2 separate regions of the Homo sapiens genome follow, and region 1 is linked to region 2. The links come from fine-mapping of genetic effects on gene expression. Tissue or cell type: whole blood. Region 2 holds a variant in brackets; the other region holds the start of a gene. All regions are shown on one strand. Distances are from middle to middle.

Region 1 (2,681 bases), 35 kb before region 2:
GAAGAAGCTGACAACCCAGGGAGGTGCCTTTATTTCTGAGGAAAGACGCAGCTGGTGCCAACACCAGCAGAAACCGTATTCCCTTTCCATATCACTCAGCCCAGCACTGCCTGGCAAATGTTCCCGGCTTGCTGTTTTGTAACTGTAATACTTTGTACAAACAGGTCAAGGACCTGCAGCCTGGGGCCTGGACCAAGTCCAGAAACATGTTCGGTTTGGCCCCAAAAACAAAAAAAAATTGAGATATGGTCTCACTCTGTCCCCTAGGCTACAGTGCAGTGGTGCGATCAAGGGTCACTGCAGCCTCGACCTCCTGGACTCAAGCGATCCTCCCACCTCAGCCTCCAAAGTGACTGAGACTACAGTTGTGTGCCACCACGCCCGGCTGATTTTGTTTAGTTTTTGTAGCGATGAGGTCTCAACATGTTGCCAGGCTGGTCTGGAACTCCTGGACTCAAGCGATCCTCCCGCCTCGGCCTCCCAAAGTGCTGGGATGACAGGCGTGCGTCACTGCACTTCTTTTTTAAATCAGGAAGTTTCACAGCATCTTGCTTCCCTTGAACTGGGCGGCACCAAATACGGGGGCTGGGGCCTCCCTTAGAATGGGGTACGCACGCCCTGCCGATGCACACAGTCCCGCTGGAACTCTCTGCCTGGACCCTTATGAATGTCCCTAAAACTGTAATTCTGAGGACCTCAAAATCCATGTCCTTTCCTTAGCAATGGCGACATTCTACCCCCTGCAGAGCCTTGACAGCTTTCGGCGAGATCTGGAAACCGCCAGGGACGCCTCCCTGTCTGCGCCTCCGCCCGCCCAGTGCCCTGCGCTGCGCACCCGCCCGGGGCGCTGGCCTGGCCCGGCCGCGCGACCACCTCGGGCGAATGACACGCCGGGTCCCCAGACGGGGGCTCCGGCGCCGGGCGGGCAGCTCCACCACCGCAGGCGGCGCCGCGAGACCGCGGTCCTTGCAGCGGGGCAGCAGGTGCGGGGTGGGCCAGGCGTCCCGGGGCCCTGCCCGCTGCGCCTCAGAGCCGCGCCCCAGGCTCTCCTCGGCGCCGGCCCGGGCAGGACGCGATGCCCTGGAGGCGTCAGGGGCGCGGCCGGCCCAGCCCGAGCGTGGAGGCCGCGGCGGACGCAGGCCTGGCCCTGCTTACCTAGCGCTTTCCGCACCCGCGGCCCCGCGCCCGCTCCGCGCCAGCCTCAGCGCCTGCGCCGCCTCCGCTCGAGCCCGGCAGCGCGGCCTTAGGCACCTGCGCAACAGACACCGCGTCAGCGGTCGCCAAACGACGGCCCGGCGCCGCCCGCTGCCCGCCCCGCCAGGCCCGCGTCCCCCGGCCCGCACCGCCCCGCCGCACCCACCGAGGCCTCGGCGGGCGCAGGCGGCTCCCAGCGCGGCGAGGCTGCGGCGGCCGAGCAGCCCTCGGCCCACCACCATGACCCGGGCCGGGCTGGACTGCCGAGCTGCCCAGGACTGCAAAACACCGGCGTCGGCGCGTCGCAGCCAATCAGCGCCCGCCTCGCGCTGCCCTCAGCCAATCAGCGTCCACCTCGCACCGTCCGCCAACCAATCAACGCGCTCGCGCTCAACTTGTTTTGTCCGCGAGCCCCGACTGCCACGGGCCGGGAGACGGGCCTGGGAGCGGCGGCGGCGGCCCGAGAGCTGCGCCGGGAGAGCTGTGCCGCGAGCCTCCGCCTCTTTTTTGGCACCGCACAGTGGATCCCTGGAGGCCGAGCGCCACGCCGCCCGGGTACCCGGCAGATCGCGAGGTGGAACGGGCCGTCGCTGCGGGGGACAGCGTTCCGAGGCAGTTGGTCCTCTCCGGGATGCCGTAGGCATCAGCTGACCGGCCCAGCCCACGTGACTACAGGGGCACTTGATGGGAATCATGGCAGCATCCAGGCCATTGTCCCGCTTCTGGGAGTGGGGAAAGAACATCGTCTGCGTGGGGAGGAACTACGCGGACCACGTCAGGGAGATGCGCAGCGCGGTGTTGAGCGAGCCCGTGCTGTTCCTGAAGCCGTCCACGGCCTACGCGCCCGAGGGCTCGCCCATCCTCATGCCCGCGTACACTCGCAACCTGCACCACGAGCTGGAGCTGGGCGTGGTGATGGGCAAGCGCTGCCGCGCAGTCCCCGAGGCTGCGGCCATGGACTACGTGGGCGGCTATGCCCTGTGCCTGGATATGACCGCCCGGGACGTGCAGGACGAGTGCAAGAAGAAGGGGCTGCCCTGGACTCTGGCGAAGAGCTTCACGGCGTCCTGCCCGGTCAGCGCGTTCGTGCCCAAGGAGAAGATCCCTGACCCTCACAAGCTGAAGCTCTGGCTCAAGGTCAACGGCGAACTCAGACAGGAGGGTGAGACATCCTCCATGATTTTTTCCATCCCCTACATCATCAGCTATGTTTCTAAGATCATAACCTTGGAAGAAGGAGATATTATCTTGACTGGGACGCCAAAGGGAGTTGGACCGGTTAAAGAAAACGATGAGATCGAGGCTGGCATACACGGGCTGGTCAGTATGACATTTAAAGTGGAAAAGCCAGAATATTGAGTTATTTCTTAACAAGTTTCGAGAGAGAAGGGAGCAAGACAAGAGCAAGCAACGGCTATTAAATGTCACAATCCTTTAATTAGAAACCATTTATTGGCCGGACGCGGTGGCTCACGCCTGTAATCGCA
Region 2 (2,681 bases):
TTTTTCTTCTCTTTCTATTTCCTTTCTTTGGATCAGAGGATTTTCAATTATCACTAAAACAGAGGGCAAAGTATGATGATATTACAAAACAGTAACAAGATAAACACTAACATCCTAAATAACATCCTGTTTAATTTATGATCATCATCGACTCTAGGCTTTAAAAATTCCTCACCTCATTCATCTTCTCCATCATCAACATATAACATATTTTGATACTGAGATGTCAAAATTGAAATCTTTATCTCCATATGTAACTAATATTCCAGCATTTATTCAAGGGATGTCTATAGCTATACTGGGCCCTATGAAGTTTGTGAAGCTTTCTGCCTTCATAGTCCATATGTTCAATGACCCTATTATTCAACTAGAGAGATACCATACATTGTCCTGAAAGTTAACAATACAAGGCAATATATGATTAGGTTCTAAATAACCGGTATGGGGAGTCAGCTGCTTGAGACCACAGTATTAAAGAGGAGTGTTTTCATTACCTGCATTACTCTTTTCTCTTTTTCTATCGTGAAGAACTAGTATACATGCTTTCTTGTTCCTTTTATGAGGCTAGGGCTCATAAAAGTTATCTGTTGAGTGACTAAGTTCCACACGTTATACTAGGTACACCATCTCATTTAATATTTACAAGAACCTAATGAGGTATTATTTCATAGTTGAGACCCAACAAGATTAAGAAATTTTCTCAAAGCCATGATGTAAGTCAATGTTGGAACTGGGATTTGAATCTAGACCTCTGTGTTTTCAAAGTCTCCTGTTCTTCCTACTATATGAGGCTGTTCTGTCAAAGAGATACTGGGGTGAGTAGATGTAAAAGATTTGGTATTTCAACTAAAAGTAAAGTTCCTTAAAATCCCATTAACAATTTAAATATCAGTTTTTATCAAAATCTATTCAGTGGTCAAATGTCAACTTTTATCAAAATATATTCAGTGGCTGTATTATATGTCTATAGAAAGATAACCAATTATAACAATAAAATGGGTTGGTGCAAATTGAAATATGTAATAAACCAAAGACAGTAAGGTTATTTAGTAAAAATATAACTATCACATTTGTATGCTTCAAATAACATTCTGAATGCCTCGCATTGCAGTCTTTTTTTTTTTTTTTTTTTTTTTTTGAGACAGGGTCTTACTCTGTGACTCAGGCTGGAGTGCAGAGGTAC[G/A]ATGTTGGCTCGCTGCAACCTCCACCTCCAGGGCTCAAGCCACCCTCCTGCTTCAGCCTCCTTAGTAGCTGGTACTACAGGCCCACGCCACCACACCCAGCTAATTTTTTGTAGAAATGGGGTCTTGCCATGTTGCTCAGGCTGGTCTCGAACTCCTGAACTCACGCAATCCACCCACCTCAGCCTCCCAAAGTGTTGGGATTACAGGCATGAGCCACCGTGCCCCACTGCATTATACTCTTAACACTTGACTTTTTCTGATAAAGTTCTTGAGAATTACGAACTGTGTCTCATTTCAACTCCTTCAGTATAGTTACCATAAACATACCACAGGAATAACACTATGATGGAAAAAGTTTAAGAATCAATGCCAACTTACCACAGTCACCAACCCTAAAGCTGTCAGAAAGAGACTTGATGTAATCTTCATTGCCCCAGGAAGCTGCATTTACAAAATGTGCTGGTGAATCCCGAATGGTGAAGCTGAAAGTGTACCTTTCTGATCCAATATCTAAGGGAAAACCAATGCTTTTATTTTTCAAATGAAGAGTTTCAATCGCTTCTCTGCCTTTTGATAAGTGTTACATGAAAAGTTTCATTTCAATTATAAACAAATGATTATTTGTTTAATCAAATAACTATTGATTATGATAATAAAAATACTCAAATACATAGTACAAAATGTTCTTTCAGATGTATATTCTATAACATGCTTCTATGAATTTCAAGCTGAAGTGGTAACAGGTTGCCCCCTTGCTCCCTTCCCTGGTGATCTGTGTATTTGGAGGGAAAAACATGTAAACTTGAGCCATCCAGGTATTACCTTAGGTTCTCCTTTTCTCTCTTACTGTTGTTTCAACCTAAGTCATAATTCAGATCTAAATAGTTATTTCAGTCCCAGCTACTTAGGAGGATGAAGCAGAATGACTGCTTAAGCCCAAAAGTTCAAGGCTTCAGCGAACTGTGATTGCCCCACTGCTCTCCAGCCTGGGCAACAGAGCAAGACCCCGTCCCAAAAATAAAAGTAAAAATAGGCCGGGCGCAATGGCTCACGCCTGTAATCCTAACACTTTGGGAGCCCGAGGCGGGTGGATCACCTGAGGTTAGTTCAAGACCAGTCTGGCCAACATGGTGAAACCCTGTCTCTGCTAAAAATACAAAACTTAGCCAGGCGTGGTGGTGGGCGCCTGTAATCCCAGCTACTCGGGAGGCTGAGGCAGGAGAATCGCTTGAACCCAGGAGGCGGAGGTTGCAGTGAGCCGAGATCCAGCCTGGGTGACAAGAGAAAAACTCTTGTCTCAAAAATAAATAAATAAATAATAATAAAATAAAAATAAAAATTGGCCAGGCACAACAGCTTACCCCTGTGATCCCAGGACTTTGGGAGGTGAGGTAGGAGAATCACTTGAGGCCTGGAGTTCAAAACCAGCCTGGGCAACATAGAAGGACACCATCTCTACAGAAAATTTTAAAATTAGTGGTGGCACTCATCTTTAGT

What was found. PIP is the estimated chance that this variant, and not a neighbour inherited with it, causes the effect.
Region 1: HAGH starts here. The variant in region 2 is fine-mapped to the expression of HAGH in whole blood (TOPMed, PIP above 0.99). The same link has a PIP of 0.9 or more in thyroid and tibial artery.

What each region holds. Positions count from the first base shown.
Region 1 is chr16:1,825,352-1,828,032 of GRCh38, forward strand. HAGH (hydroxyacylglutathione hydrolase) reads right to left here and starts at 1,474. Exons shown (of 9, transcript NM_005326.6): 1 at 1,361-1,474. The coding sequence starts at 1,436. FAHD1 (fumarylacetoacetate hydrolase domain containing 1) reads left to right here and starts at 1,855. Exons shown (of 1, transcript NM_031208.4): 1 at 1,855-2,681. The coding sequence starts at 1,888. The coding sequence ends at 2,553. RefSeq lists a silencer at 825-1,794 and an enhancer at 1,885-2,074.
Region 2 is chr16:1,860,423-1,863,103 of GRCh38, forward strand. It overlaps MEIOB (meiosis specific with OB-fold), which reads right to left. Exons shown (of 14, transcript NM_001163560.3): 4 at 1,563-1,694; 5 at 1-53. Among named protein-coding and RNA genes, the nearest start is that of MEIOB, 10 kb to the right of the region's middle. The variant G/A (reference allele first, on the strand shown) is at 1,184.